Linked DNA regions of Homo sapiens. The protein of the gene in region 2 purifies or fractionates together with the protein of the main gene of each other region. This does not show direct contact. Each region holds a gene or a part of one and is shown on either strand. Other genes may lie near its edges. The genes, in order: LRRTM3, SETX, FAHD2A and RIC3.

The links.
Region 1: the proteins of SETX (region 2) and LRRTM3 purify together in Homo sapiens (co-immunoprecipitation; one large-scale study listed by IntAct). This does not show direct contact.
Region 3: the proteins of SETX (region 2) and FAHD2A purify together in Homo sapiens (affinity purification with mass spectrometry; one large-scale study listed by BioGRID and IntAct). This does not show direct contact.
Region 4: the proteins of SETX (region 2) and RIC3 purify together in Homo sapiens (co-immunoprecipitation; one large-scale study listed by IntAct). This does not show direct contact.

The regions. Positions count from the first base shown.
Region 1 is NC_000010.11:67,094,459-67,101,922, forward strand, and holds the end of LRRTM3 (leucine-rich repeat transmembrane neuronal protein 3 precursor), read left to right. Parts: intron 1-3,128; coding exon 3,129-3,338; 3' UTR 3,339-7,093; downstream 7,094-7,464. UniProt on the Homo sapiens protein: Exhibits a limited synaptogenic activity in vitro, restricted to excitatory presynaptic differentiation. May play a role in the development and maintenance of the vertebrate nervous system.
Region 2 is NC_000009.12:132,320,282-132,328,737, reverse strand, and holds part of SETX (probable helicase senataxin), read left to right. Parts: coding exon 1-2,414; intron 2,415-8,456. UniProt on the Homo sapiens protein: Probable RNA/DNA helicase involved in diverse aspects of RNA metabolism and genomic integrity.
Region 3 is NC_000002.12:95,402,562-95,411,017, forward strand, and holds the start of FAHD2A (oxaloacetate tautomerase FAHD2A, mitochondrial), read left to right. Parts: upstream 1-146; 5' UTR 147-311; exon of another isoform or gene 312-431; intron 432-438; exon of another isoform or gene 439-2,841; intron 2,842-2,991; 5' UTR 2,992-2,997; coding exon 2,998-3,242; intron 3,243-4,379; coding exon 4,380-4,596; intron 4,597-7,965; coding exon 7,966-8,025; intron 8,026-8,302; coding exon 8,303-8,456. UniProt on the Homo sapiens protein: Tautomerase that converts enol-oxaloacetate, a strong inhibitor of succinate dehydrogenase, to the physiological keto form of oxaloacetate. It is thereby required to maximize aerobic respiration efficiency by preventing succinate dehydrogenase inhibition.
Region 4 is NC_000011.10:8,155,816-8,164,271, reverse strand, and holds part of RIC3 (protein RIC-3 isoform a precursor), read left to right. Parts: intron 1-8,456. UniProt on the Homo sapiens protein: Molecular chaperone which facilitates proper subunit assembly and surface trafficking of alpha-7 (CHRNA7) and alpha-8 (CHRNA8) nicotinic acetylcholine receptors.

The DNA.
Region 1 (7,464 bases), on a different chromosome or scaffold from region 2:
AGTAATTGGGGGAACAGTGTATAATTAAAAAGAAAATTACTGGCCATATTCTATACCTAAATCACTTGGTCCTTCCACTGATATTTAGGTTCTTCATATTGTCAAGCATGGTGCCTCATATATCACACAGTTTCAATAATTTTTATCCATCTGATTAGCCACAAAAGAATAAACATACCTTGTACTACATCTGTATACAATACTTATAAATTAAAAATTGAGGAAGAAATGACTTAAATTTAACCAAATATTTTATATATTAAAAAATTATCTTACTTGACATTCCAATAAAATTGTCAGTGCAAAATATTCATAATTCAACAAAGACTTACCTGAACACAATTTGAAAAATTTATGAGTAAATGTACACACATGTGCATACATATACCATATCATGTATATATCCATAGGTATGTATACTATATTTACATGAATCTTATATAGATGTCATGAGTATGTAAAAGTGGTCCAAAACTGATGTATCACCAAAATTTGCATTTTCCATACCTGATTTAAATGATTTTGAAACTATAAGTAATTGGCTTTAAGTTTATACATATATGTGTATATACATATATGTTTATATATTATATATGTATCTGTATGTGTGTACCCCTATATATACACATGGGTATATATCCAATGCTAACTCTCTTAAATTTTCAAAATCATTTAGGTCAACCTGGGAAAAATCTACTGTGATGCTGTATTCAGATATGGCTAGCTGTTACATTCTACTTACTGATACATCTTACTATGTTATTTTATTGTTAATAAGATAGAATCAACTTTAAAATGCACTCTCAATTACATGGAAATGATATATGTTAAACATTCACGTTGCTTATAAGTTCCATCCTAATTTCAGAAATAATAAAATGTGAAAAAATGTGGATTTATATTTAAACAGTATAATCATGGCATAAAGTATTTCAAAATAAGACATATCCAACAGTAAGAAACTCACTAAAGAAAATAATATGTGGGATTTTTAAAACAGATCATCAGAGCTAACTATTTAATTGATAATGGTTCAAATTAGGACTTGCACTCTGCATACCAGTCAGTAGCCTTGATACATTAAATCAAGCAGGAAATTGTGTGTGCACACACACACACAGAATAAATGTATCATGGTTTATTATTTTTCATAAATCATCACCATAGAAATTACAAATTATTCACAGTAGAGTTAATTCTAAGTAAGCCAGAAATGATTCTGCATATATGAGGCATAAGTTTCCATGACGAATAAGGACAAGTATATAAAATCCTACAGATATATGACCCATAACACATTACAGAGCACTGATTTCCCAGAGGATAATGTAAAACTCGTGTACCCAGTAACAGTTCTATTTTTGTTCTCTTCTATAACTCAAATCTATTCATGCTGCACATTTACTTTTACATAAAAATGTATTTTAGTTATCTGGGCTATTTCATCTGTGACAACAAGATTCTTATTTATTTTAAATGGAAGTATCCTATTTTATTCTTAAGCATTTTCTTTACGATCTTTCAGTCGCCTTGACCATTTTTTAAAGTATGTGATATCTTTCATTCACGCATCAGATAACTTCATGTTTTAAATCTTAAAAATCCACATAAATAGGAAGAGTTACTCTGGAATTTTCATTTAATAAGCTGGATTACATTTCTCTAAGAACTAAGCTATATATATTTTATATGCCGAAATATTCATATTATAAGCAAATAATCTTAAAAGAAGTGATTAGTTTTATTTTTTATTTTTTTGATTACTTTTATTAAAGAGATAAAAGGTAATATTTGCTCCAGGAATTTTCACTGAAGTAGAAATACATGTAAGTAGAACTGTAGGGATGGAAACAGAAGTGGCAAAGACGGTTCTAATGCATGGAGAGAAGGGGAAAGAATGTAAAGATGCAGTTAATAAAAAAATAATACCTAGGCCTTCTATTTTTCTTAGCTTTGGACTCTAATCTCAGCTAAGATCAGAAAGGAAGTTAGTCTGATGTGCTCAAACAAATATACATTCTATCTGTTCACCAAACAAGAATGGCAGAAGCTTTTATCCTCCAGAGAATTCAACAGCATGAATTAGTAATTAGGATATTAAACCAAGATCAGGACTGAAGGTTCCTGAAATCTGCCTACTTTTTAGGACAAGTTTTTATCTTATTGAAAAAGAAATGGGAACTATCTCTAGACTTTGATATCTGATTATATTTCAGGCTCCCCTTTGTCTGTAACTGTGTTTCCCTTCTCACCATGGTCATGCTTGCTTTTTCCCTCACTTTTAGAACTTGCTTTCTTTAGTTGGCAAGGGAGTCCCTTCCTCATGTATACTACTGGTTCCTTCAAACTAGCATCATCCTTTGATGCTTTTTGGACTTTCATAGGAACCATAGATTTTTCCTGGGAATTCTCTATGCTCATCTAAATTTTAGATATATGGACCAAACTACAGACATTAATATTTTAAGGAATCTTCATGATAAAATAAATATTAAGAAGTCATGGGTAAGAATAGCCAGAATGGCTTGTCTAGATAATTCTCTTCTGCAATGGTTATCGAAGTGTGGTGTGTGGATTAATAGTCCAGCATCATATAGGAACTTGTAAGACATGTGGATTCCAGGACCTATACCAGACCTACTGGATGAAAAACTTGGGTGGCAGGGGGTTGACTAGTTAAAGAAGTGGGTGGTGATTTTTGTGAATGCTAAAGTTTGAGAATCACTCTTGTTCTATTGTATCCTAACCAAATAATAGGATAATTAACACTAATAATAATAATAATAGTGTTTATCAGTTCTAAAAACACAATTATTTTCCCAGTTAGCGAAAGCAATTTTCTGACTGTTCCAATAAATCTTTTATCATTTTCAGAACCATGTAGGCTACTACTTATCCAAATCTTCTAGTAAAGAATTAAGCAGTTTCATCCCAGGATTTAAAACTGTTGCACTGATCTCACCATATAGGAATAGGGGGCATTAGCGGGATAATATAGGGACACCTGGGCCACAGGGCCACAGATATAACCATGGAGGTTAGTCAGGTCAGCACTTCAGTCTCTAAATCTTTCCCCTAAAGTTGTCCATATTTTTATAACTGACTTTTCTCATGTCATTTTTCCCCAGATACCTTTATCAATGAATGTGTCAACCTTTCTGGCATACGACCAGCCCACAATAAGTTACTGTGGGGTGCATCATGAACTTCTCTCCCATAAGTCCTTTGAAACGAATGCACAGGAAGATACGATGGAAACACACCTAGAGACTGAGCTGGACCTGAGCACAATCACAACAGCTGGCCGAATCAGTGACCATAAACAGCAGCTAGCTTAACTGAGATCATTGGTAGCCAGGGGTTGCTACCAAACTTTGTAACCTCAAGGACAAAATGAGGAAGATGTGTTCATTGTGGACTCTAAAAACAAAACAAAACACAAAATCCCCTGTTCAAATAAACAAAAAATCCAAGATTGATTCATGAAATAAAGAAGACATGAATTGTTTTAAGTCTACACTTTGTAATTAGCTAAGTTGTGCAGTATTTTTTGACTTAAACAGAGTATGACCCTGAAAAATAAAAGAATCTTTTTTTTTCAAAACTCATCCTACCTACCTGTAAAAACTGTACAAAGCTAATGTATTTTTCATATTGTAAAGTTTCAATTGTAGAAACAACTGGTATGTACAGTACCATAATTTAATTACATTTTACTTTAAAAACTTTACACATTTCAGTTTCTAAAATTTTAAATTAACAAAAATTATTTCTTGTGTTATTCAGAGTTACTCAGTTTTGTAAGGACTGTTTTGTTACTGCTTTTGTGCCCAGAAACCTTGACTCTAAAATTCTGTGCTGTGCGAAACATGCACGATTTTTATTATGCTTACTGCGTAGAATTTTATCTACTTGTTCCAGAAATAATACATTAACCAAAAAGGATTTAATTGTTCAGACTTGTAAGAGGTTCTTCAATTACATAGGCAGGTTTTTCTTAAAAATGAAAAAAAAATCAAAGATTTTTTTAACAGTTCTCAGACTTAACTGTTGCCTTGAATTACAGCCTAGTTTCTAAGCAGTGAAATGTAATGATAAAGAGGGATATTTTAACATATTTCCGAATGAATGACTCATTATTTCATTCTTTTGAGTAACCATTGTTAAGGGTTGGGGGAAAGCATGGACAAAACATCACTGGAAACAAAGGCTGTAACCACAGCAACAGACTTTGTGATACAGTTAAAAGGTGCAGCTGCCAGTGACAAATAAAAACTTTTGTTACATCTCATTATTTTCAGGCCAAGGTGGGAGTATAGTGCATAATAATTGTACAGTAGCAATTTTTATCCTAATTAACCCATAGCGGTTTACCTAAAAGTAACCATCAGTCAGTGCAAAATGTGCCTGGTTCTTAAGACAACTTTTTATTTAGAACTGTGAGACCGGTATTTTGGAAACATTTCAAAGGAAACATATGAATTTGTTTTGCGTTGTGCACTACATCATTTCTCTCCTGAGGAAGAATTTTAAACATGTACAGCTCATTCAATATAGATATGAGCCATGGTGGAGAACTTTATCACTCAAGTAGACGGTAAACATCCTTAATATGTTCTAAATTGTTTATATTGCTATCCATAATGGGATTCACCTCCAAATTATCAAAGAAATAACTCAGAGTAATTTGACACCAGCCCAGATCATATATTGATTATACAATTGTATTATAAAGTTCATTCAAATCAAATTAAGAAAACCTGAGTCTTTAGAAGCTGAAATAATCAACTTGTTTGTGCTGTTTGCTTGACATAGGTTATTGTTTGAAAATATTGTTACTTTATCAATAGTAATCATGCATTCTTGTGTTTTTTTTTAATGGAAAACTGCAAGTTTCAATTACTGTTGCACTAGAAGTGCTTTTTATGTTGTCATTTTATATTCATGCCATCAAAAGTAGATTGACAATACATCAATCTAACAGGGGCCAATCAAAACAATGAAGAAAAGAATAACTGAAAACAATGTCAAACTTTTAAATTTTTATCTCTTCCAAAGAAGTTATATCTATAAAATCTAGTTTTATGCAGGTTTGTCACAGCAAATGTAAAAGCGGATTCAAGAAGAATGAACTTAAAAACTGTGGAGCAAATTTTTGTTGAAAATATATAAAGTCAGAAAGAAAAAAGATGTAAATGTTGGAAGAAGCAAATTCTATTACTAATTCAAATGAAACTAAATGTCAAACACAGTACTTGTGTCAACTATTTAGCATCCCAGATTTTGTAACATATTTTGCATAAATTATTTGCTCTTCAAAAATTTTTGTCATTTTAAATCTAATTTTAATCTTTATGTTTTCCATTTTCTAATTTCCTTGCAATGTATTATTCTTATTCTTAATTCTCTACATTGAAATTTGGCTTTACGTCGTTAGCAAATTTATAAAGGGTTATAAAGCTATGATTCGTGAGTCTAAAATCAAATGCAAAATTTTATTTATTATGTAAACCAAAATGTCATTTGCAAGTTTTCTCATTAGAAGTTATCCTTGCAAAGATAGAAAAAGAAGAATTAATTTGTGTAAACAAGCACAAATTAACATATTTGTTAATAAATAGGTTTATCTACTAATAAACCTATTTCTAGACACATTCAAATTGATAATGATTTTTAGAAATGTTAAGGTTCCAAGGAGTCTTACAAGTGTATGCCCTTGATTTCCTGAAGGAAACCACTTTCTTTCTTAAATATTTTAAATTCATCTAAAGTGAACGACTATAAATAGAAGCAATCACCTTGGAACCACAGCTCTGTGCAACCAAGGCCCTAAGCTACACCAAATACGCCAGGAATTTTGAGACTTCTCATCTTTAAATTCAACCAAAAGGGTCTTTAGCAAGAAAAAAAATGCTGGATGATGATTATTATTATTTTTGCTTAATTTTTATTTTGCCATGTCCAGGTTAAGGGTGAGGGTGGTGACAATCTGAAAGACTGTGTCTGGAATCTTTATCACATATTTCCAATTTATTTCAGTTTTTGTCTAAAACTTGCATTTCTAACCTATCTTTTCCAGCATTTGATAATCTCCCATTTCCTCCTTCTAACCCCCATTCCTATGTCTCCCTTCCTGTCTATTCCTCACCGATTTAAACAACTGAAATGTTTACTTATGTTTGGAGCTGAAAAATGGAAAGTTTCACCCAGCATGGTTACAATAACAGCCAGCAGCTGCAGCAAACCATAAAGTTATGCAGTGTTTTGAAGTTCACAAACCACATTTTACATAAATTATCTCATTTTGTCTTCATAACAACCCTATGAAGACACATTAATCTCAAAGAAATTGAGCTCTTACCCCAAAACACAGGGCCAATAATTGGTGCAGTTGAATTATTCTCAAAATTTACAGGCTGTTAGTCTTTCCACTGTACTAAAAGATTTCTTTCTCTGATCAGAGCAAGAGAACTTCCAGAGATAATGGATAGAATGAAAGAATATATATCTATATATATTTGACATGTTGTTTAGTAATCCCTATTTTAATTCAATTCTCCATCTGTAAAATATTAGCTAACTGAATTATTTCTGTGTTCTACTCTGGGCTCTCACATTAAAACTCTGTTCAAAAAGTTTAACAAGTCACATATTTCTTAACATACAAGTTCGTTTGTGAATGTGCAGAACAGATGCTCCCAAGATGTGGATGCATGTAGGCCCCGAGGTACAGACATAAAATCAAGGAAGCACAAGGAAAGAAACCCCAAGGAAAAAACCAAAGACCTTCTAAATTGAGACTGCATAATTATAAAAGAGATCCATAGTACAGGGTTGAACACATGTTCAACACTTTGTCAACTGAACACATGTTCAATTCGGAGCTAATTGGGAAGACTTACATAAAATTCTTTTTCTTTTTTTCTTTTGGCAAGATTTCTTCTTAAACCATGAAATTTTTTTTACTTGTAATAATAGAGAACAATTTTCTCCATTTTCTTATAAGAAAAATAAAATATAATTTATCCAAATTGATGTATAGAACCTAAAACATATGCTAACTTGCAAATAATATATTTTACTGATCAACTCATTTTTGTCAAGTCTCTATTTCTAGTCCCTCCTGAATGTTTTGGAAAACCACAAAACTATACAGATTAATACAAATTACATTTTTACAAGGAAAGAAAACATTCCCAAATTTAACACTCAAGACTAATCACATAATCCTATTTTGAACTCAGATCTCTCTGACTCCATTGACTGCTTAGAAATAGTAAAATCTTTTTGAAAAAAAAATTTTCTAAAATAAAACTATTGTATATGAGAGTAAAAATATATTTGTTTTTGATTGTTCCTGACTAGAAGACAGATATCATCTCTCAAACTAAACACTCAAAATAAGAAATTGAATTCATGAAAACCAATACCTGATGTGAATTGTTGTTATTCAACTGTATAAAA
Region 2 (8,456 bases):
CGGATTCTCAGATAGACAGAGACCTTCACAAATTATCTTTACTAGCTCAAGCCAGTGTTATTACGTTCCCATCCGATTCACCTCAGAACTCATCGCAGCTGCAAAGGAAAGTAAAAGAAGATAAAAGATGTTTCACAGCTAACCAAAATAATGTTGGAGATACCTCCCGTGGACAGGTTATTATTATTTCAGATTCTGATGATGATGATGATGAAAGAATCCTGAGTCTTGAGAAACTCACTAAACAGGACAAAATATGCCTTGAGAGGGAACATCCAGAGCAGCACGTTTCAACAGTTAATAGTAAGGAGGAAAAGAATCCAGTAAAGGAAGAAAAGACAGAGACTCTTTTTCAGTTTGAGGAATCTGATTCTCAGTGTTTTGAGTTTGAAAGTTCATCTGAAGTGTTTTCAGTTTGGCAAGATCATCCAGACGATAATAATTCAGTTCAAGATGGTGAGAAAAAATGTTTGGCTCCTATAGCCAATACTACAAATGGTCAGGGTTGTACAGATTATGTATCTGAAGTTGTTAAAAAAGGAGCAGAGGGCATTGAAGAACACACAAGACCACGGAGTATTTCTGTTGAAGAATTTTGTGAAATTGAAGTAAAAAAGCCTAAGAGAAAACGATCTGAAAAACCAATGGCTGAAGATCCTGTGAGGCCTTCATCTTCTGTCAGAAATGAGGGCCAGTCTGATACTAATAAGAGAGATCTTGTGGGAAATGATTTTAAAAGTATTGATAGAAGGACTTCAACTCCCAATTCACGTATTCAGAGAGCCACTACGGTTTCACAAAAGAAGTCTTCAAAGCTTTGTACTTGTACAGAACCCATCAGGAAAGTTCCAGTTTCTAAGACCCCTAAGAAAACTCATTCAGATGCCAAAAAAGGACAGAATAGAAGTTCAAATTACCTAAGTTGTAGAACAACTCCTGCTATAGTGCCGCCAAAGAAATTTCGTCAGTGTCCTGAGCCAACTTCAACAGCTGAGAAACTTGGCCTGAAAAAGGGTCCTCGTAAGGCATATGAGTTGTCCCAGCGGTCTTTGGATTATGTAGCTCAATTACGTGATCATGGCAAAACTGTTGGAGTAGTTGATACCCGAAAAAAGACTAAATTAATTTCTCCTCAGAACCTGTCTGTCAGAAATAATAAGAAACTTCTGACTAGTCAAGAACTTCAGATGCAAAGGCAGATCAGACCCAAATCACAAAAAAATAGACGAAGACTTTCTGATTGTGAAAGTACAGATGTTAAAAGAGCAGGGTCACATACAGCACAGAATTCTGACATATTTGTACCAGAATCTGATAGGTCAGATTATAATTGTACAGGAGGAACTGAGGTACTTGCCAACAGTAACAGAAAACAGTTAATAAAATGCATGCCTTCTGAACCAGAAACCATAAAAGCAAAACATGGGTCTCCAGCAACTGATGATGCTTGCCCTTTGAACCAGTGTGATTCTGTAGTGTTAAATGGAACAGTACCAACAAATGAAGTAATTGTCTCCACTTCAGAAGACCCTCTGGGTGGAGGTGATCCAACAGCACGTCATATAGAGATGGCAGCTTTGAAAGAAGGAGAGCCTGACTCCAGCAGTGATGCAGAGGAAGATAACTTATTTTTAACCCAAAATGATCCTGAAGATATGGATTTATGTTCACAAATGGAGAATGACAATTATAAACTCATTGAACTAATTCATGGAAAAGATACAGTTGAGGTTGAAGAAGATTCTGTAAGTCGGCCTCAGTTGGAATCTTTGAGTGGCACAAAGTGTAAGTACAAAGATTGTCTTGAAACCACAAAAAACCAGGGTGAATACTGCCCAAAACACTCTGAAGTGAAAGCAGCAGATGAAGATGTATTTCGTAAACCTGGCTTGCCTCCTCCTGCATCTAAACCTTTGAGACCTACCACTAAGATTTTTAGCTCAAAGAGTACTTCACGAATTGCTGGTCTTTCTAAATCTTTGGAAACTTCTTCAGCACTTTCACCGTCTCTAAAAAATAAGTCAAAGGGGATACAGTCGATTTTGAAAGTACCACAGCCAGTTCCCCTCATAGCTCAGAAGCCAGTTGGTGAAATGAAGAATTCGTGCAATGTTCTTCATCCTCAGTCTCCGAATAATTCCAACAGGCAAGGTTGCAAAGTTCCATTTGGTGAAAGCAAATATTTTCCATCTTCCTCTCCAGTAAACATTCTTTTGTCATCACAGTCTGTCTCTGACACCTTCGTTAAAGAGGTCTTAAAATGGAAATATGAAATGTTTTTGAACTTTGGTCAGTGTGGGCCCCCTGCAAGTCTTTGTCAGTCCATCTCAAGACCTGTGCCTGTCAGATTTCACAATTATGGAGATTATTTTAATGTTTTTTTCCCTTTGATGGTATTGAATACTTTTGAAACAGTAAGTATGTGTTTCATTTGTATGCCTCTCCAAACTTTTCAAGTTACCTCTTTACCTTGCTGAGTGAAAATGAGAGTATAGTTCAAAAAATCAGCCAGGCGTGGTTGCGGGCACCTGTAATCCCAGCTACTCGGGAGGCTGAGGCAGAGAATTGCTTAAACCCAGGAGGCGGAGGTTGCAGTGAGCCGAGGTCGCGCCACTGCACTCCAACCTGGGCGGCAGAGTGAGACTCTGTCTCAAAAGAAAAAACAAAAAAAAGTATAGTTAAATTAAAATTGACCGTTTCGATTTAGATACTGGTTTTAGATTTCATGTTGAACAGACATTTGTGCCAGCCACTGTTTTAGATACTGGCAATACAGAGGAAACACTTTTTTTTTTTTTTTTTTTTAGGTGGAGTTTTGCTCTTGCTGCCCAGGCTGGAGTGCAATGGTGCGATCTTTGCTCACTGCAACCTTCTGCCTCCCAGGTTCAAGTGATTCTCCTGCCTCAGCCTCCCAAGTAGCTGAGATTACAGGCCTGCGCCACCAGGCCTCACTAATTTTGTATTTTTAGTAGAGAAGGGGTTTCACCATGTTGGTCAGGCTGGTCTTGAACTTCTGATTCTGACCTCAGGTGATCCACCAGCCTCGGCCTCCCAAAGTGCTGGGATTACGGGCATGAGCCACTGTGCCTGGCTGGAAACTCTGCTCCTTGGAGCTGATAGACACAACTCAGGGTGCTAATATACCAAGTGCAGAGGTAACACAGAAGGAAATGTTTATTGACGCACGGGTAAAGGAAGACTTCTCAGAGGAGATAGTTTCCCATGTGCATTTGTTTTGTTTTTAAGTAAGAGACCTCTGCTGTAGTTTTCTTGAGGAGGTGGCAAAGGGTGAATTACATTGAACACAAAGTAATGAATCCTAAATTTCCCTACACGTCAGACTTCCCAGTTTCTTTCTTTCTTTTTTCTTTTTTCTTTTTTTTGAGACGAGTCTCGCTCTGTCGCCCAGGCTGGAGTGCAGTGGTGCAATCTCGGCTCACTGCAAGCTCTGCCTCCCGGGTTCAGGCTGTTCTCCTGCCTCAGCCTCCCGAGTAGCTGAGACTATAGGCTCTCGCCACCACGGCCGGCTAATTTTTTGTATTTTTAGTAGAGATGGGGTTTCACCATGTTAGCCAGGATGGTCTCAATCTCCTGACCTTGTGATCTGCCCGCCTTGGCCTCCCAAAGTGCTGGGATTACAGGCGTGAGCCACTGCGTCTGGCCGCCAGTTTCTTACTCATCACAGCAGCTGCTCTGTGTAACAGCCTCCCCAACCCCAGCACATCCTATTCTGGTTCTTCTCTCCTCCTTACTCAAGTAGAGTTGACAAACGATAAGATTCCCGTTAAAATTTGAGAAAAACATCAAATAATTCTTTAGTGTAAGCATTCAACTGCGTTTAGAAGGATTTTTGTGTGTGTGTTTTCAAGGCAGGTAAGAAGTGGGAGCAAATTTTTAGTTAATCCTCAAAAGAAACTTTCGTGTATACAGTAATACTCTTAAAACCAACAATGTTGAGGTAAATAGTCATGGTTCATTAGCTTGATAGATATTTGAGTGCCTAGTATGTGCCAAGTGCTCTTACAAGCATGGGAGATAAAGTGGTGAACAAGACAGGTGTGAGGTCTCTGCTCTCTGGAAGTGACCATTTGGGATTGAGATAAGGACTCTAGTATGATCTAGAACAAAGGGGACAGGGCACTTTCTGGAGAGATCAGATAACCTCTATGAGCAGATGATATTTACACTGAGACCCAAGTGACTAGGAGTTAACTGTGGGAAGTATGTTACAGGCAGAGTGGAGTGCAAAGACAGTCTGGTAACAAGATTGGAGTGTTGGGGAAGGAAGTGTAATGTACAAAGGGACAAGTCTACTACAAAAGAAGAGAAGTGAGTTGTTAACACTGTACATGGCAAGATAAATGGCTTTTATAAAGCTTGAGTGAACGTATCTTCATCAATGTACTTTATGTTAAATCTTTTGATCAATTCGTACCTCAAATTTTAGCCATTTTTGAGAGTTGCTTTATTATTTTTTTTTCCTAAGGTACTTTTGTTTTAGCAGGAGTTGCTTTATTTTCGCTGGAAAGCACTAAATTGCTTAGAAGCCATTCATAACCCTATGAAGGGTAGACACTTACTTTCATTTCCTGAGTTAAAAGATATTTATTAAGATTTATTTCCTTCAGGACATTTTTGTAGTCTCAGCTTTTTAAAAACAGAATGAGCACAAGTTCCATTTGTACATATACAGAGTTTAAAATAGTCAAAGATTTCTATCTGGCCCATTATAAAGAACATCAGGCACCCCTCATCCCCTCAAGTAACTATTTTCTATTCTTAATGAGTCCTTTGGAAATTTCTTTCCATTTTTATCTTTTTTTTTTCTTTTTTGGAGACAGGGTCTCACTCCTGTCCCCCAGGCTGGAGTACAGTGGCACAATTATGGCTCACTGCAGCCTCAACCTCTTGGCCTCTGGTAGTCCTTCCACCACAGCCTCTTGAATAACTGGGACTACAGGCTCACACCATAATGTCCAGCTAATTTTTGTATTTTTAGTAGAGGCAGAGTTTTTCCCATGTTGCCTAGGCTGGTCTCAAACTACTGGGCTCAAGTGATCCACCTGCCTTTGCCTCTCAAAGTGCTACGATTACAGGCGTGAGCCATCCCGCCTGGCCTTCCTTCCATATTTCTGAATAACATGTCCATATTGTAACTCCTTGATTTTTCAGTTTTAGGCGTTTCTGTTTCCTGCTTCAGGAACTACCCCCATTTCCAGCCCAACCCTTGCACACACTCTTCCTGTTCCCTCACCCTCATTATGGGATTGTCTTGAAATTTTTAGATCCATTTTTGTTATTTTGACTATGTGAAAGATATCTTCAGCTAAGCCATGTAGTATGCTGTAATTGCCTTTCCATTTCCTTCCAAACTCTGTGTTTTCCTTGGATTTATTGTTTTATATGTTTATTTAATTTTCTACTTATCACTAAATTAATGCCAGGATGTCTTTTCTTGAATGTTTAAATCGCTCATGATCAGGTACGTTAGTTAATCTATAAATTTGTTCTGTGTGTGGTGCATGATGATATTCCTGAAATAGTAGTCCTTATCCTTGGGTTGGGTCTGTATCTCCTCCACCCCCGTCATCTTTCTTGGTTACTCATGTTAGCGAGGCCTGTCCTTCAGGCTTCCAGAGAAGAGGATATATGAGAGGTACATTTTTGAAATCTTGCATGTCTTAGAATTTCTTTAATCTTCTCATTTTCTTTAATTTTTTCTATCTTTCATCTCATTTTCTTTTTGTTATCCTTTCTTGGAGGCCACCTCAACTTTTCTCCTAAGTCCGTTGAATCCTTTTTAGCGTATTTTTAGTTTCCTGGAACTCTTGTTCTCTGAATAGTCCTTTATTCTATTTCATGGATGTGGTATTTTTTATTAGCTAAAGTTTATGATAATTTTAAAGTTAGCTAAAAGTTTTTCTCTTTTTGCATGGTTCGTGTTTCCCCAGTTGGTTTTTCCTGTTCATTTTAGTGTTTATAGTCCTTTCTGTTAATTCCTTTTTTCAGGTGGTAATGATTTCTGGTGGTCTACTCACATTTAAGAACAGGAAACTAAAGAGTAGATTGGAACATTATTCATGGTAGCCAAAAAGTGGAAACAACCCAAATGTGTGTCAGTTGATGAATGGATAAACAGGTCTGTTCATACAATGAATGGAATATTATTCAGCCATAAAAAGAAGTGAAGATCTGTGTTCACTAATGAACCTTGAAAACATTGTGCTAAGTGAAATAAGTCAGGGACAGAAGGTCACATATTATATGATTCCGTTCATATGTATTGTCCAGAATAGGCAAATCTGTAGAGACAGAAAGATGAGTAGTAGTCAGGGGAAGGAAGGAGGGGGGAATTGGGATTGCTGATAGGTACAGTGTTTCTTTTGGGGTGATGGAAATGGTGCGGAATTAGGTAGTGGTGATGGTTGCACAGCATAGTAAATAAAACCATAGTACTAAAAACCACTGAGACGTACACTTTAAAATGGTGAGTTTTATGTTGTATGAAATACCGTCTCCATTTAAAAAATATTACTTTAAAAAGAGAATAAATTTGATTAGCAATAGGTTAAAAAAGATGCCTAGGAAAACATGAAATCTTCAGATACTTTTACAAAAACGAGCCTCTTTATGGTTGCACTCTGGAAGGCAAACGTGATCTGAAGGGCGCCATAGCAGGGTAAAACCCAGCATTAGTTTCATTCTTCATGGTAAGGTTTTGTGCTTAGGTGCAGTTATAATCTGTATTTTGTTATATATATAAAAGATGAAAACACCAGAAGCTCTGAGTGAAAGGGTGGGCTTGTTGACCATTGGCACTTCATTAGGAAGCCCCACCCCACCATTATGTCAATCAATGTCTTTTTTTCTTTTTCTTTTTCTTTTTTCTTCAGACGGAGTCTCACTCTGTTGCCCAGGCTGGAGTGCAGTGGCACGATCTCGGCTCACCGCAACCTCTGCCTCTTGGGTTCAAGCATTTCTCCTGTCTCAGCCTCCTGAGTAGCTGGGACTACAGGTGCACACCACCACACCCGGCTAATTTTTGTGGGTTTTTTTTTTTGTAGTTTTTTTTTTTTTTTTTTTGAGACAGTATCGCTCTGTTGCCCAGGCTGGAGTGCAGTGGCATGATCTCAGCTCACTGCAAGCTCCGCCTCCTGGGTTCATGCCATTCTCCTGCCTCAGCCTCCCAAGTAGCTGGGACTATAGGTGCCTGCCACCATGCCTGGCTAATTTTTTGTATTTTTTAGTAGAGACGGGGTTTCACCATGTTGGCCAGGATGGTCTCGATCTCCTGACATCTTGATCCACCCACCTCGGCCTTCCAAAGTGCTGGGATTACAGGTGTGAGCTACCGCGCCCAGCCCTAAGTTTTGTGTTTTTAGTAGAGGTGGGGTTTTGCCATATTGGTCAGGCTGGTCTCAAACTCCTGACCTCAGGTGATCCACCCGCCTTGGCCTCCCAAAGTGCTGGGATTACAGGCGTGAGCCACCGCGCCCGGCCTCCCAATGTCTTTAGTCTTTATTTTTCCTGTCAGGTCTCAGTTCCCAAAAAAGAATCGTCACATATTTTACCTGGGAAATGTAGGCGTGGCAGGGAGCTGAGTGTGGGAAGAGGGCTGGGTAGGAGTGGGGGACGGAGGAGAGGTGTTGGAGCATTCAGTGTGTAAACATTTACTACTATCTCATCCTCATCCTTGCTGTCCTCAAGGTCAGAGACTGCTTATCCTCTCTAGAGACAAAATCTCTTGTCATTTTTTGCTGGGACCAGGGAGGAACAGTTGCCCTCCAGCCATCCTTCTAGAGAGAGCTGTTGCTTCCCAGTTGGAGTTCACGTTCTTGGGCTTGCTGAGTTAGTTCCATTCATCCCTCTGCTTTGCAGCTTCCAAAGTGTGGTTACTGTTGTCTCCTCTTCTGTCCTTTTTGTTCTAATTGGTCAATGCTGTTTTTTAAAATCTCTTTGGTGTTTTAGTGGGGTTTCAGGAGGGAAGGAAATGGTGTGTGTTCAATCTACTTTGAAGTTACACCTTTCTTTTTAACCATACGATTTCAACCGTCTTATTTAAGCATTTCTGGTTTATACAGGCCAATAATTATTGGTGGTATTAAGGTGCCTTGTTTAGTTTTTTTTTTTTTTTTTTTTTTTTTGAGTTGGAGTCTCGCTCTGTTGCTCAGGCTGGAGTGCAGTGGTGCGATCTTGGCTCACTGCAAGCTCTGCCTCCCGGGTTCACACCATTTTCCCTCCTCAACCTCCCGAGTAGCTGGGATTACAGGCGCCCGCCATCAGGCGTCCGGCACCACGTCTGGCTAATTTTTGTTTTTGTATTTTTAGTAGCGACGGGGTTTCACTGTGTTAGCCAGGATGGTCTCAATCTTCTGACCTTGTGATCTGCTCGCCTCAGCCTCCCAAAGTGCTGGGATTACAGGCGTGAGCCACTGCGCCCGGCCTAGACTTTTTTT
Region 3 (8,456 bases), on a different chromosome or scaffold from region 2:
AGAGCGTCTCCAGAGAACGCGGCTGGCGCCTGGCTGAACCCGTAGCCTGAAGACCCGCCGGAGCCGCCCGCCCCACGATGGGCCCGCCCCTCCGGGATTGGCGCCCTGCTAGTGGCCATTGCCTGTGACGTCACAGGATCGCGCCCGCTTTTCTCTCGGGTGATCCGGCCGAGTGGCCCTGGGTTAGCAGCTGCTGCATTTCCCCGGCTGGCTGCGGTCACTGGTGGCAGTGCTCAGGCGCCCGCCGCCCTTGACCTTCGGCCCCGCGAGCTCTAACCCTACAGCGCAGGAAGATCGGCCGCCGCGGCCAGGTAGGACGAGCCTGGCTGGGTCTAGGCCAGAAGGGTGTCCGTGGCGCCGGTCTCCCGCGGAGCGCAGAACTAGTACCGGATCCCCAGCCGCTTCTGACCACACAGACGGGGCGGACCTGTGTGAGCACTCACTAACTGTCGGGGCTGGAGCTGGGCATATGGGGAAACTGGGGGACCGGCACGGGTTCCAGGCGAGTGGACGGTGGGATGGAATCCGACGTGCACACCCATGTCTCAGGCTTTGTTTGATGGAGGCTACTGTTTCCACCTCATGTCGCCGCCCCTTTGCTTATGGACTCTTGCAGAGTTGGATTGAGCTCGGGCTGTGTGATATAGTGGTTGTTGCAGAAGCCCCAGGGCCACTTTCTGACTAGTACCTTGGGCACCTGACATCATCCCTTTGAGTCTCAGTGTCCTCTTCTTTAAAGTGAGGGCGCTCTACCTGAGGAGATTGCTGTAAGGTTGGAATGAACCTGCATGTGTGTGTCATGTGGGAAGGGAACAGTCAGTGGGGCCTGGGGTTCTCTTGGAGAGCTGGTAACCAGCCTCGTCCCTGAGGCAACAGCCAGAGGGCGCCTGTAGTTTCCCCACGCATGTCTGTTAGCAGTTACGGCCTCTGGAGGATCTCCTGTGGGAGGTCCCTACTTCTCACTACAATCTTTAGAGACTTTGGAGGATTTCCTATGGAAGGTCCCCACTTCTCACCACAACATTCTGGGTTAAAATGGCCTTGGTAGGGGGATGGGGGCTGAAGCTGGATTTTTTTGCTTGCATTACAAGCTTCTGAACCAAGGACTTCATGTCACCTGGACTTGGATTCACATCCCAGCTCCTTCCTCTCCTAGCTCTAGGACTGTGTAACCTTGGGCAAATCTCTTAACCTCTTTAAGCCTTAATTGTTTCATCTGTAAAATGAGGCTAACAGTACCTACCTTCCACAATTGTCGAGAATTAAATCAGACATTGTAGGTAGAGCACTTAATAGTTGGCATTCAGCGGCAGCAGTTACTGTTATGTTAGCATGTGGAGTGTCTGAGTGTGTGCACATTGGCTCGAACAGCCTTTTGACAGTGGCACAGTTGGTGCTTGTGTAAGACAGCAGGGCAGAGAAGTCAAAGCCCTCGGTTTTCTAGTCAAACTGGTGGGCCACAACAGTGGTGACCTAAGTCTAATGAATCTTCAACTGAACAAGGCAGATTGAATCTCCAGGTGAGGACCAAGAGTCTGGGGATCAGCTGCCTCCACATTTTTGGGCATAGAAGGCTGTACAATACCGCCTTTGTTGTAAGAGCAAGGAACCATTCAGGGAAGGCACCATGTGGTAAGGAATAGAGGCCAGACGTGGATTAAGAACAAAACAAGAGAATAGTGTTTGTCTTTAAGTGGAGCCTTGGACTCAAAACAGGATCTGAGCCCTGAGGATTTTTTTTTTTTTAATTGAGATGGAGTCTTCGTCTGTCACCCAGGCTGGAGTGCAGTGGCGCGATCTCAGCTCACTGCAACCTCCTTCCCCTGGGTTCAAGCGATTCTCGTGTCTCAGCCTCCCTAGTAGCTGGGATTACAGGTGGCTGCCACCACACTCGGCGAGTTTTTTGTATTTTTAGTGGAAACGGGGTTTCACCACGTTGGCCAGGCTGGTCTTGAACTCCTGACCTCAAGTGATCCACCCACCTCGGCCTCCCAAATTGTTAGGGATATCACGCATGAGCCACTACAACTGGCCCTTGTGGGAAGGCACAGCCATGTCTCCTGAAGTTAACAAGCACTAAGCTTTCCCAAGTAGTGAAATGTCAAGCCCCTGCTTCTGTCACTTATTTGTTCATTCAGCAGAAAGTCACTGAGAGCCTTCTGTGCACCAGGCACAGTGCTGGGCAGTGAAAGAGACAGACATGTGCCCTGGACCCAGGGAGATGACAAGTGATGGCTGTCAGGCCCAGACCCTGTTGTTTGTCTGCAGCCTCTTCCCTCAGGCAACTTGTTCTCTATCAGGAGAAACGAAATAATTATTATCTGGAGAGGCAGGTGGGGGCGCTGCTCCTAGAAGACTGGGACAGCCTGGTAGAGGTTCTAGCTTGATCATGTGAGCAGTGGAAACCATTTTAAGTAGGAGGTTAACAGGACCAAAATAGCATTTAAAAAATTGTTTATGGCCACTGTGAAGCCAGTTTCACCAGCGTCACTTGCCCATGCTGGGCTGCCACCCAGCTAATTCCTGGTCCTGCTCATTTAGCCCAGCTCAGCTCACATCACTTCCTCCAGAAACTAGAGAAGGGTAGAGCCCCTGACCATCTTCACAGCATTAGTCCTGATAGCTGAATCTTACGTCAGTTGTTAACATCTGTGACCTGTGCAGGGAGAATGGCAGGGCTGAGTTTCACCTACATTGTTTCCCCAATACCTACAGCAGAGCCAAGCACAGTGGGAACTTTCAGAAAGCACTGGTTGAAGGAACGCTGGAATCCCTGGGACTTACTGCGTAGCATGTAGTAGTTGCTCCTCTAGAAAAGTTTCACCTTATGAAGTATAGCAGGTAAAATACAAGCCTGGACCACTTCCCGTGTGGTATGCAGGGAACGGTTGATGGGGCAAAGGGCCTCGGGCTATAGCCCTAGGAATTTCAGGGAACCTGATGATGGCTCTGGGATCCTCTGTCTCCTGGATCCTGCATTTTTCTCTGCAGGCTCTGATGCTGGTGTCTGGTAGAAGAAGGTTACTCACAGTTCTGCTGCAGGCTCAGAAGTGGCCCTTTCAACCCTCCAGAGACATGAGACTAGTGCAGTTCCGGGCACCCCACCTGGTGGGGCCTCACTTGGGCCTGGAGACAGGGAATGGTGGAGGGGTTATCAACCTCAATGCCTTTGACCCCACACTCCCGAAGACGATGACGCAGTTCCTAGAGCAGGGAGAGGCCACCCTCTCAGTGGCAAGAAGGTAAGTAAGTGGGCAGCATCGCCCTGAAGCAGCTGCCCTGGTCCCCCTGCACCCTCCCCGCTCTGGGAAACAGCACCAGCAGGTAGCTCTTTTGCAAGGGAGCAGAGTAACCCCACCTTTCCTTTTCTCCCGTTCTCTTAAAAGATCCTTAGAAATCTTACATAATAACATCTTCAGTTTTCAGAGGAGAAAACTGAGAGCTAGGGGAGGTGATTAACAATTTGAAGGCCATACATGTGGTGCTGGAACCAGGACTCTATACTTCATCACACTGCCTCCTCTGGGAATGAAGTCCTGGACTGACTGACGGGTCTGGGCCCGGGGGTCCTAAAAGGCATCTTATGCAGCTGGGGGAGTGATATAGACTCCCAGCTCCTACAAGGAGAGAGGACTGCAAGGAGGTTTTCTATAAGACACTTGGTTCCTGGGTTTGGACTAGATTAGGTGAGAGTGTCCCTGAAGCCTGGACCCCTATAGAATCTGGTCTAAGGAGCTGATGAACAATAAATTAAAAATACTTTAAGATGTCATTTTCATCTATTAAAATGGAAAAAAATACAAATGTTTCACAGCTCACAGTATTAACAGTATGTTCCCATATTGCCATATTCTGCAAAGACTGGAAATCTCCATGCCCCTCATTAGGGACTTGGGTATATCTCTATAGAGCAGTAATATGCAGCCACAAGAAATAAAGAGGACACTCTCTATGTATTGTTACATATTGTTAAGCAGAGATCTCCAAAATCAGTTGTTTTTTTAAAAGATGTAAATAGTATGCTATCATTTGCATACAAAAGGGTGGGAGAAGAATATCCATAGAGTAGCTGCGAAGAGCCAGGGGAACGGGGTAACCGGAAGGGGAAAGGGAAACCTTTCCATGTATTCCAGTTTGTATCTTTTACATGGACATGAGTTACCTAAGGGGGAGAGGAAATCAACACTGGATAAATAAAAGCCCTGCTCTGATAGCAAAGGACAATAGTCAGTGATTTTCACACTGACTCTGATGGTTGATAGAGCTAGGAAATAGATTTCAAAAAGCAAAACCTGTAGCTGCTGCAGGATCTGCCCAGCCTGCCCGGGATTGCCCACCTGTTCCCAGCCAGACCCTCTCACCTGCTCTGGTCTCTACAGAGCCCTGGCTGCCCAGTTGCCAGTCCTACCACGGTCGGAGGTAACCTTCCTGGCTCCAGTCACACGACCAGATAAGGTGGTGTGTGTGGGCATGAATTATGTGGACCACTGCAAAGAACAGAACGTGCCCGTGCCCAAGGAGCCCATCATCTTCAGCAAGTTTGCCAGCTCCATCGTGGGGCCCTATGATGAGGTGGTCCTCCCACCACAGAGCCAGGTCAGTGTCTCCCCACTGCCCTCCCTAGTCACTGGGCCCATCACAAGGGCATTCTGAGCTCAGTATTGAGCCTACTGGAGCCACCTCTCGCTCAATAGCGCATTCAGCAGAAACTCTACAGGATTGTACACACAGTAGTAACACTGGCCTTGGAAAAAAAAAGTTAATGTACGTGTTTTCCTGGTTACAAAAGCAATGCACCTTCACTGTAGATAATAAAATAGAGATAAACATTAAAAAATTATGTCACCCATAATCCCACTGCCCATGGCTCGGAATATTAATGTTTTTCTGTCTACCTTCCCAGTGTTTCTCCGCTCCTGTATATGTTTATACTGTACATATACTTACCTTTTACTTAAGACTCCATCAGGAGCATTTTTTCATGCCATTAAGTATTCGCCCTGACACCACGGAGTTTGTTATGTAGATTAGTTTATTCCTGAGTACCTTACTGCTGGATACTGTTTCTAGTTTTTGGCTTCTATAAATAAATGTTGCAGTAAACATCCTTATGTGGAAAAGGCTTTGCATGTCCATTAATACATTATTATTTCCTTTGAATAAACCCTTTGGAATTTAAATATGTCAGCGTATAGGCAGTATTTCAAAATTTTTGAAAAATTCTGCCAATTGGCCTTTTAAAAAATTGTAAAAGCAACTTACACATCCACCAGTAGTGTATATACCCTTTCTAACACTGGTTACTTTTTCTCTCAGATTTTTATTTTAGAAATGTCTTGAAAATTATAGAAAAGCTGGGAAAATAATACAGTGAACACTCAGATAACTTTTCCACCTGGTTTCATTGTAAACATTTGGCCATATATCCTTTTTCTCCCTTGTCTTCTCCCTGCCCTCCACATGGCAAACACACATTTTTTTTTTTTTTTTTTTTTTTTGCAGGGTATGGGGTGGAGGGGACCTTTTAAAACACATTGGAAATATTAAGACAATTTAGTCATAAAAACGTAAATAGGCATCTTCTAAGAATAAGGACAATGGCTTGCATGACCATCCCACCATTATCACAACCAAAAAAATTAACTTGAATAATATTTAATATGAAATCCAATTGCCCCAATTCCCAATCGGAAGTACTGCTGACTTCCCCAAAGATAACTTCTAATTTGGTTACTTCGTTTGTTGCTCCATGATCAACCAAGGCCACACACTGTATTCAGTTATATCTCTTTAGTGGTTTCAATCTAGGACAGGGTTCCATAGACTTTTTCTTAAAGGGCTGTATTAGTCTGTTTTCATGCTGCTGATAAAGACATATCCGAGACTGAGCAATTTACAAAAAAAAGAGGTTTAATTGGACTTACAGTTCCACGTGGCTAGGGAAGCCTCACAATCATGGCAGAAGGCAAGGAGGAGCAAGTCACATCTTAGGTGGATAGCAGCAGGCAGAAAAGAGCTTGTGCAGAGAAACTCCCATTTTTAAAACTATCAGATCTCATGAGACCCATTCACTATCATGAGAACAGCACGGGAAAGACCTGCCCCCATGATTCAGTCATCTCCCACCGGGTCCGTCCCATAGCACGTTAGAATTATGGGAGCTACAAGTTGAGATTTGGGTGGGGACACAGAGCTAAACCATATCAAGGGCCAATTAGTAAATATTAGGCTTTGCGTGTCATATGTTCTGTTTTGCAACAATTCAACTCTGCTGTTATAGTGTGAAAACCACGATACAGAAATGAATGATGGGTTTCCAATCAAAGTTGATTATAGCAGATGTTGAGCTGGCCATAGTTTGCCAACTCCTGCTCTCAAACAATACCCCCTGCCCTTTCCTTGAAGAATCCAGTTGTCTCATAGCATGTTTCACATTCTGGGTTTGTCTGGTTGTTTCTTCATGATTAGTGTCAGGGTAAGCATTTTTATCAAGAGATCTACAAAGCAGATGTTATACATTTTCCATCGTATCCCACTGGGAGGCTCATGTCAGTGGTCCCAGAATTTGACCACTTGGTTTAGCTGACATTCACTAGGTCCCTCCATTGTGAAGATGCATTTCTATTTTTGTAATAAGCAATCCATGGGTGGTAGTTTGAGATCACATAACTATCTTATTGCCCCATAGCATCTCATCCAGGGATCCTGTGGTCATCCTGACTGAATCTATTATTGCACTGGGGGTTAGAGAACAATGACCTTTTTTTTTTTTGAGACAGAGTCTCACTCTATTGTGCAGATGGAGTGCAGTGGCATAATTTCAGCACACCTCTGCCTCCTGGGTTCAAGTGATTCTCCTGCCTCAGCCTCCTGAGTAGCTGGGATTATAGGCGTGTACCACCACACCTGGCTAATTTTTGTATGTTTAGTAGAGACGGGGTTTCATCATGTTGGCTAGGCTGGTCTTGAACTCCTCACCTGAGGTGATCCACCTGACTTGGCCTCCCACAGTGCTGGGATTACAGACGTGACCCACCACTCCCAGACAAGATCAATGACTTCTCAATCATGCCTTCTGTTTTTATTGGCTGGCATTCTTCTATGAAGAAAAGCTGCCTCCCTCCTTTTTATTCCTGTCTTCAATATCACTGTGAATTCTGTTTTTACTCAATTGTTTGTAATTCATCATTTACATTCTTTAGGTGACCTCAGTTTGGCCAGTGAGGGGCCTTCAAGTTGGCTCCATTCCCGTCACTTTTAGTATATCCTAGCTTTCTGGCCAAGATGTTCTAGGCTTATCATGTACTGTCTGTCTTGGAACTGGAATTGGCCGTTTCCCCAAGGAACCCAGTGCTCCTTAGTGGGGAGTGGTATTAGAGACCAACATCTGGATGTCGGGTGTACTTACACCAACTCTGGTTATTATTAGAAAGAGCCACCAATTTTAAAGGCCAAATTATATCTATTTTATAGTGTATTTTATGGATTATGGGAGAGGCTGAGCATTTCTTCATGTTTTGTGGCCATGTCCGTTACCTTTTTGTGAATTGCTTACTCAAGTCCTTTGTGGGAGTTAATAGATTAAAACACTTAGAACAGTGCCTGACACACAGTAGGGTTACATATTGCTAGGGGATATTACTTCGTATTTATCCTTTGTTAAAAGTATCCAGAGTGACTTTTAAACTCAGTGCCCTGGACACGTGTTGCTCTTCTGCAGTCAGTGGTGTGGGGACCTGTGCCTGCATCCCATGATGCTGTCTGCCACTGCCCAAAATGTATGGGTCTACAAGTCACACCTCCCTTGTCATTCACTGGGCTCTGGTTCGTGGTGATGGCAAACATGGGATGGCAGCGAAGCCATACTGACAAAGGTTGAGGCCCTTCAGCATGGTGTGCAGCCTCTCAGCATGGACAGTGGGCCCTGAAGCCACTGCAGCTCACTGTTCCTCTCCCACCCTACAGGAGGTAGATTGGGAAGTGGAGCTGGCCGTGGTCATTGGAAAGAAAGGCAAGCACATCAAGGTGAGGTGGAAAGGGTGGGCTCCCAGTCCAGAGTGCAGCAGAGGCCCCAGCTCCTGCCTCTCCTAGTTCTGACCCCACTCACCAACACACGGTGCCAGCTGTCCCTGACACTAGGAAGCAGTCAGCCTCCTTGCTCCCTGACACTGCCTTTCCCTTCACCCACCTTTGGCTGGCTCTGGCTACTAACATGGGATAACAGCTTAGAGATCCCTTGCCATAGGTGTTGGTGTCACCCATGATCTAACCTCCTGTATGGCCAAATCCCCTGCCCCCATAGGCCACAGATGCTATGGCCCACGTGGCCGGCTTCACTGTGGCTCATGACGTGAGTGCTCGTGACTGGCAAATGAGACGTAATGGGAAACAATGGCTGCTGGGAAAAACCTTCGACACCTTCTGCCCTCTGGGCCCTGCCTTGGTGACCAAGGACA
Region 4 (8,456 bases), on a different chromosome or scaffold from region 2:
TTGCCAAATCCAAGGTCATGAAGATTTATGCCTATGTTTTCAAGTTTTATAGTTTTTGCTCCTGCAGTTAAGTCTTTGATCCCTTTGAATTAATTTGTGTATATGGGTAAGGTAGGAGTCCAACTTCATGTGGATATATAGTTGCCCCAGCACCATTTGTTGAAAAGACTCTTCTTTTCTCATTAAATTGTTCTGGCACCCATGTCAAATCAGTTGACTCTAAATGTAAGAGTTTGTTTCTGGACTCTCAATTATATTACATTAATCTGTATACTTATCCTTAGCCAGTACCATGCTGTCTTAATTATTGTAGTTTTCTAAGTTATGAAATCGTGAAATGTGTCCTCAAACTTTGTTCTTCTTTTTCAAGATTGTTTTGCTATTTTGGGTCCTGTGACCTAGCATTTCCATAGGAATTTTGGATCATCACTTTGGTTTCTGCCAAAAAAAAAAAAAAAAATGCCAGTTGGGATTTTGATAGAGTGAACTGAAGCAATTTGGAGAGTACTGCCATCTTACCAATATTAAATCTTTCAATCTATGAACAGAGGATTTCTTTTTTATTTATCTAGGTCTTTAATTTATTTTAAAGGAGATTGTAGTTTTTAGTGTGAAAGTCTTATTTTGTTAAATATATTCATAAGTATTTTATTCTTTTTGATGTTGTTATAAATTTTGTTTTCAGATTGTTCCTTAGTGTATAGACAATTAGTTTTTGTATATTGATACTGTATCTTGTCACCTCGCTGAACTTGTCTGCATATAGAGATAGTTTTACTTTTTTTTTTAATCTGAATGCCTTTTATTTTTATTTTTACTTTTTTTGGCCTAACTGCCCTAGCTGGAACCTTTAGTGCAATGTTGAATAGAAGTGGTAAGAACAAACATCCTTTCTTGTCCTTGATCTTAAGAAGTATGCTTTACTAGCATATGTAATGTTATCTGGGGGCATTTCGTAGATGCCTGTTTTCAGGTTGAGGAAGTTCCCTTGTATTCTTAGTTTGCTGAGTGTTTTTCATTATGAAGGGGTATTGAATTTTATCAAATACTTTTTTTCTATGTCTGTTGAGATGATTATGAGATGATTATGTGAGTTTTGTCCTTTACTGATGTGGCATATTACATTAATTGAAATTTAGATGTTAACCCAGCTTTACCTTCCTTGGCTAAATTGAGGAGGCAGTTCTTAAAGTGTTTTGGGGGGTGTGTGTGTGTGTGTATGTGTGTGTGTGTGTGTGTGTGTGTGTGTGTGTTTAAATAATCCAGATGAAAAAGAAGGGCATTCTAGGTAGAAGAAATACTGAGCAAAGAAACACAGAGGCTTAGGGCCAGGCACGGTGGCTCATGTCTATAATCCCAGCACTTGGGGAGCCCAAGGCAGGCAGATTGCTTGAGGCCAGGAGTTCGAGACCAGCCTGGCCAACACGGAGAAACCCCGTCTCTACTAAAAATATAAAAATTAGCCCAGTCTGATGGTGCACGCCTGTAATTCCAGCTACTTGGGAGGCTGAAGCAGGAGAATTGCTTGAACCTGGGAGTTGGAGGTTGCAGTGAGCTGAGATCCCACCACTGCATTCCAGCCTGGGCGACAGAGTGAGACTCTGTCTCAAAAAAAGAAAAAAAAAAAAAAAAAAAAAAAAAAGAAGAAGCATGGAGCCTTGAAGTATCCTCAGAGTTGTGAGAGAAGACACCAGAGAAGTTGGCACGGGCCAAATTGTGAAGGTTTTTTTCTGTCATTCTTAAGGAGATTGGGTTTTATTCTAAAGGCAGATGAGGCATCATTGAGTGTGTAAGGAGAAGAGAAACATTTAACCTGGTTTTAGAAAGGACACCCTGGCAGCAGTGTAGACACTGCGTTGTGAGGATTTCTTCAGGGAGAAGATTGTTGTAGTCATCCAGTTGAGACATCATGAGCATCACCAAGTCATTGTCATTGGGTTCACCAGTTAGGGTGCTTGTGACAAGTGACAGAAAAGTCAGCTTGACTAAGACAGGGAATTTATTGACTTGTGTAAATGAAAAGACCCTGTGTTAGAAATGTCTTGCAGTATGGTTTGAACCAGAGACTCACAGTTGTCACACTGGGGCTCTAGCTCTTATTTTCTGTGTCCTTTTCACTCTGGGTTCGTTCTCAAGTTGGTTCTGTGCTCTGGCTGCCCTCTCAGGGTGGTAGCAATGGTTGCAACAGTTTCGGACATTACCTCCTCACATTCCATTGCCCGGAGAAAGTGAGTGTCTCATTTATAGCAACAGTTTCGGACATTACCTCCTCACATTCCATTGCCCGGAGAAAGTGAGTGTCTCATTTATAGCAACAGTTTCGGACATTACCTCCTCACATTCCATTGCCCGGAGAAAGTGAGTGTCTCATTTATAGCAACAGTTTCGGACATTACCTCCTCACATTCCATTGCCCGGAGAAAGTGGGAGTGTCTCATTTATATACGTGTGTGTGTAGAGCTGGCCTGGAACTCCTGGCCTCAAGTCATTGTCCCACCTCAGCCTCCTAACGTGCTGGGATTACAGCACTTTGCTGGGCACAGCTCCAGGCCTCTTTTCTTTTAAGTCCTCCATCACTCTCACCTTCCAGCCTCACTCCCAAGATTCTTTCCCAGAAGTTCCAGCAAACATATCCGTTCACGTTAATGGCTTGAATTAAGTTAACTTGTGGTGCTGTGGGTAGAAAGAATATACTGATGAATCCACTCTGGAGTTGAGAGGAGTTCCCAAAGGAAAATATGGATATTAGAGCAAGAGAGGTTATCAATGGATAGATTGGAGGGAAGAGAATAATTTTAAGAGACATTTTAAAATAGAATGGGAAAGTGAGGGAGAGGGAGACATCTGGATTATTCTCAGGTTTAGGTGAAGGGATAGATGTTGATTTCCTTTGCCAAAATAGGAATGGAGGAAAAGTAGATTAAAGGTGTGTGAAAAGAAAATAAAAACTTGGGACCCCAGTTCACTATGCCAAAAGGAAAAAATTAAGCTGAAAGCTGAGTCGTGCAAGAAACTGCCTTTCCTTTTGTTCCTAAGCAGGTAGCTACAGATAAAAAATTAAATATCTCTACAGGTAGCTACTCTATGTTCACCGTATCTTACGTGAAGTGCCGATTTACTGAGCACCAGATGAATACATAATTGACTATTCCTCTACCTGCTCCTTTTCTCTTGCAACATATAGATTACCATACCCTTCTTTCCCCTCCAGCTCACTTTTCCCCTTGAAATATTGAAGCCCTCAAAATCATCTTTGGAGAAAGGCACAGACCTCTCTCCTGGGCGTGTCCTTAACGTTGGCAAAATAAACTTCTAAATTGATTGAGGCCTGTCCCAGATACTTTTTGGTTTACAGGTGTAAGATGATTAATCCAGGAATTGGAAAAGTAGTATTATGTCCCTTTCTTCAGTCTTCTTTCCTGTGTTAACATCCCTAGCTCCCTCATCCGTTCCTGGTATGACCTAGGTGCAAGTGTTTGAACACAGCCCTCTCAGAAGAGGCTCTTAGAACTGCAAATAACAGCATATCTAAGACAGTTCATGAAAGAGCAATCTGTTGTTTCCCTGCACTCTTCTTCTTCTATACTTAATGCTTTCTGGGGATTGCTCTAGTTTTTAGCATTTTCCTTGCTGACTTTGCTGTATATTAGAATTCTGAGCCTTTTTTTCTTCTTTTTAATAGGAGCTGCTCATCTAGGTTTTGTTCATTTTCTACTGTTCACTTGATGTTTCGGAATGAAATGTAGGAATTTGTAGTTTTCCTTGTTGCATTTTATTTGTTTAAATTTGGCCAAGAATTCTAGCTCTTGAAATTTTTTCAGAGCATTCAATGTTTCATTCAATGTATCTGCTTACCATTTCTTAGCTGTGTGCCATTCTTGATTTTTAAAAAACTTTTTGTTAAAGACATTTTCAAACATAAGCAAAAGTTGAGAGAGTAGTAAAATGAATCCATATCATCCTGCTTCAGCAGCCATCAATACATGGTCAGTCTTGTGTCATGGGTATCCCCACCCACTTTTCCCCCCATTCACTGGATTATTTTGAAGCAAATCCTAGACATTGGATCATTTTTCATCCTTAAATGCTTCAGTATGCATCTCTAAAAACAGATTCTTATTAAAATGTAGCCACAATACCATTGTCACACCTAAAAAGTCAATACTTCCTTGATGTCATTAAATATCTAGTTGGTGTTCAAATTTTTCCCACCATGTTATAATTTTTCTTTTTTTCTTTCTTTTTTTACAATTTTACCTTTGATTATGATCAGCATGTTTTCTCTTTTTGTTTGTTTTTTCTCAGGCTGGAGTGTAGTGGCAGGATCTGAGTTCACTGCAACCTCTGCCTCCCAAGTTCAAGCAATTGTCCTGCCTCATCCTCCTGAGAAGCTGGGATTACAGGCATCCACCACCACGCCTGGCTAATTTTTTTTGTATTTTTAGTAGAGACGGAGTTTCACCATGTTGGCCAGGCTGGTATCGAACCCTTGACCTCAGATGATCTGCCTGCCTTGGCCTCCCAGAGTGCTGGAGTTACAGACATGAGCCACCATGCCCAGCCTCAGCATGTTTTCTTGATAGGTCAAATTATTTTTTTAAATGTCTTAGTCATTTAAAACTGCTTTTAGAGTCCCACCACTGTATTCATGGAAACGTTTTGTTTAGGGTCATTCAACCAGTTGGTTATTTGGTTGCTCTATTCCATCTTACTCTGTCACCCTGGTTTGCCTCCTTCCTCCTTCCCCACTTCAGTCTATTCTCAATATAGCTGCCAGATAGTATTATGTTGAAGCTTAAGTCAACTCACATCTCTCCCCTCCTCAAAACTCTACAGTGGCTTCCTGGCTTAGATGAAAAGATAGTCTATACATGACCCAAAAGGCCCTATGTAATTCTCTTCCCCATTTGCTTCTACTTTTCTATCTGTCTCACTTTGTTGTGGCCACACTGGCTTCCTCCTCACTGTTCCTTGAATATGCCAAGCATGTTCCCACTTCAGTGCCTTTGCATTTGCTGTTTCCCTTGTTTGAAATGCTCTTCTTTTGGATATCCATGTGCCTTTCCCTTCGTCTTCATGTTTTCTCTCAAACTGCATTTCCTGATGCCTTCTCTGGCCATTCCAGCTAAAATCTTAACTTCCAACACGGTCCTACCCCTTCTCCCTGTCTTATTTTTTCTCCTTAGTATTTATCATTATCTTGTTTATTGTCTCTTTTCCTACTTAGAAAGGAGGCTCTGTGGCCGAGCGCGGTGGCTCACGCCTGTAATCCCAGCACTTTGGGAGGCCAAGGCGGGTGGATCACAAGGTCAGGATTTCAAGACCAGCCTGGCCAACATGGTGAAACGCCGTCTCTACTAAAAATACAAAAATTCTCTGGGCATGGTGGCAGATGCCTGTAATCCCAGCTATTCGGGAGGCTGAGGCAGAGAATTGCTTGAACCCAGGAGGCGGAGGTTGCAGTGAGCTGAGATCGTGCCACTGAAATGCAGCCTGGGTGACAGAGACTCCATCTCAAAATAAAACAAAAAACAAACAAAAAACTTCTTAACTCTGGCTTCCTAGAGTTTGTGCTACACGATTCCTACTTTGTTGTCAGAAACACTAAGATCTCATTCTCCTGAGGTTCTCCTTTCATTTCATCAGAGCTTCTTCTTTGATCAGAGTAGCAGTTCTTCTGCTCTCCCTGTGTACCTGTGGAACATAAAAATGTCAGCACACTTGGTCAAGAACTTGTCAGTTGTTCCATTGTCAGCTGAATGAGAGTTTGAATAGGTTGCAGGGTAGTTGAAGTACTCCAAGATGACAGTGTGCCACTCTGTGTTGGAGGTGGCTTCAAGAGAGTCCTATCTACTACTTCTACTTGGCTGGGAACCTTTGGTGTTCCCACAGTAACACTGTATCTGGGCATCTTTCCTGCTGACCCTGCCTGAATGCTTATAAATAGGGTTCCTTAGTAGCCCCTCTCCAGTGGCCCTGTTCCTGTGGAATAGCACAGACCCTTTGTCACGATGTTCTCCCTAAGTAAGTTGTGTCCCACTGAGTCTTAATCTCTCTGAGATGTGAAAATATACAGATACATGTATATGTGTATATAAATATACACATACAAACATATACACATATACATGTATGACATACATATACATACATAGTTCTGTGTTATCTTAAACTAGCTTCTTATGTGTTGGTATGTAAGTGCCTGAAGACAAATATATTATTTTGGTTGGTTACCATTTATTTTCCCTAATGAAGCATCAGAGATCTACTCTGAAGGAATGTTTGAAGGACAGAGATTAGGAAATCATTTTGATTTCAGAGGGTCATTTTCCTGTTCATGTATTATGGAAATGAACAGAAAACAACAGACAATTTGAGAGCCCATGAATGCGTGTAAATTAGGCATTTTTTCAAGTTTAGAAACGTACAGGTAAGTGGGTATGGAATACCTTGCTTGATCAGTCATCCTAATTGCCAGTTTCTATTCTAGAAACTATAAAATTGAAAACTGGCAGGATAATGAAGTAAAAAACTATTTTTAGCCCTACAAATGACTGGGCAGGATCTTGAGATTCTAATAAAGGCTAACACTCCCAGTATAATTCATCCAAATCAGGTCAGCAAAGATTGTAGTAGGCAAGATCCAGAGCCTGCCCTGGGAACCCAAACAAATAAAACACTAGGCCTTTATTCAAGAAGTTCTTAGTTTGTCTTCCAGCCGGAGACCACTAGGAACACACCTGTAGTTGAACAAGTTGAGTGTATTACTCATTGCAGCAAGGGAGAATGCACACCATGGGGAATTGTGGGGCATCTCAATAAGGCACTGTTAGAAAAAGTCATTATAGGATTTGGGTTTGTGTTAGGTGATCTGGAGGATGGTTTAAGGATGTGGTACTTTACTCTGAATTAGATGCTTTCAGGAAGTAAGGCAAATTCTAGGACTGGTATCTTAACAGTTTATCTAAAGGGAGGGCCAACTAGAGAAAGGCTAAAGCTGTAATTGATAAAGCAGCCCCATCGTTCACATTACTCAGCACTGGGGGATATTAGGTATTTAGTGGCTTGGACAGTGTTCATGTTTTGTCTGTGTTCAGACAGATTACTGAGTGGTCTTGTTTTTTGTCTTGATCCGTCATGATCACAGAATGGCCTTGTCTAATGTTGGTGTTCTGAAATAGCTTATGTGTAACAGGAGAACACCACAACTTATCTGTGAGTACCAAGCCAGCTCATAGCAGTATTAATGCCTAGTTGATAATACCAGGCCAACTTTTAGATGTTAGAGGCTGCTTTTCTAGTTCTCAGATATGATATACACCAAATAAAATTGGATAGAGATGGTGTTTAGTGGAAAATGTTACCTGTTTTTGTTTCCCGGTTCATTTAAGTACAGGCTATAAGACACATTAATAAAACTCTTGATTAAGGCCAAGTGTGGTAAGTGCAATTAAAGAGGCTCAAGCAGTGTGTTTTACAGGCATGGGGAATAGCATGAGAAAATGCTTCGGGGGCATGGGGGCAGTATCTGGCCTGGGCCTTGGAGGATTGGCTGGATTTAGATATGTGGAGTTGGAGAGGAAAGCAAAGCCACTGGAGGATAAGCATAGGCTCAGAAGCAAGAAGGTGAAAGTCAGGTTCAAAGCATGGTGAGAACCCTAGTTTGACTAAATGAGTGGTATGTAATGGGAAAGTAGTGTGAAGAGCACTTTTGGGTTAGATTATGGAATTCAGTTGTTTAGGAATTCAGTTTGTGGGGAGGGAAAATCAGAATTTGTTAAATACCTACTATATGTGCTAGGTGCTTTGTATATATGATATTATTTAATCTGTAATTCTTGTAAACTCTGGAAAGTAGATATCATGCCCATTTTACAGATGATGAAAATGAGCCCTAGAAAGATTAATTTAACCTCCACTGAAATAGTGGGAGGCACAGCCATAATCTTAACCAGTAACTGACTGAAAAGGTGGCACTCATTCCACTTCACTCTGCTACCTCCATTCTGCTGTAATACAGCCTCTTGTCATCAGTGGAAACTATTAGAAGCTTTTGATCAGAGAACTGGCAAGACCAGTTAGAATTGTGCTTTAGGAAGATTATTCTGGTAACAAAACAGTGGTAATTGATGTGTATTGAGTGTGTGGATCGGGCCCTGTGCTAAGCAACTTAGACACACAATGATCTCTTTTAGTAATATATAGGATGGATTGAGAATGGAGAGGTTGATAAAAGATGAAAGAAATCTGATTAAATTAGCAGAAAATGTGAAAGCAGTAGAGAACAAAGCAGAATCAGGTAGAAGGGAAATGTAACAAGATAGGGCCCTTGGAGGAGACCGGTGAGGAAGAAACAGCTATTGTCTTGGCTTCTACTTCAAGTAATGCTGAATCAAATATGGCTTCTACAGCTTCCTCAATATTTAGGGAAAAGCTTGGCTATCTTAAGCAACTGG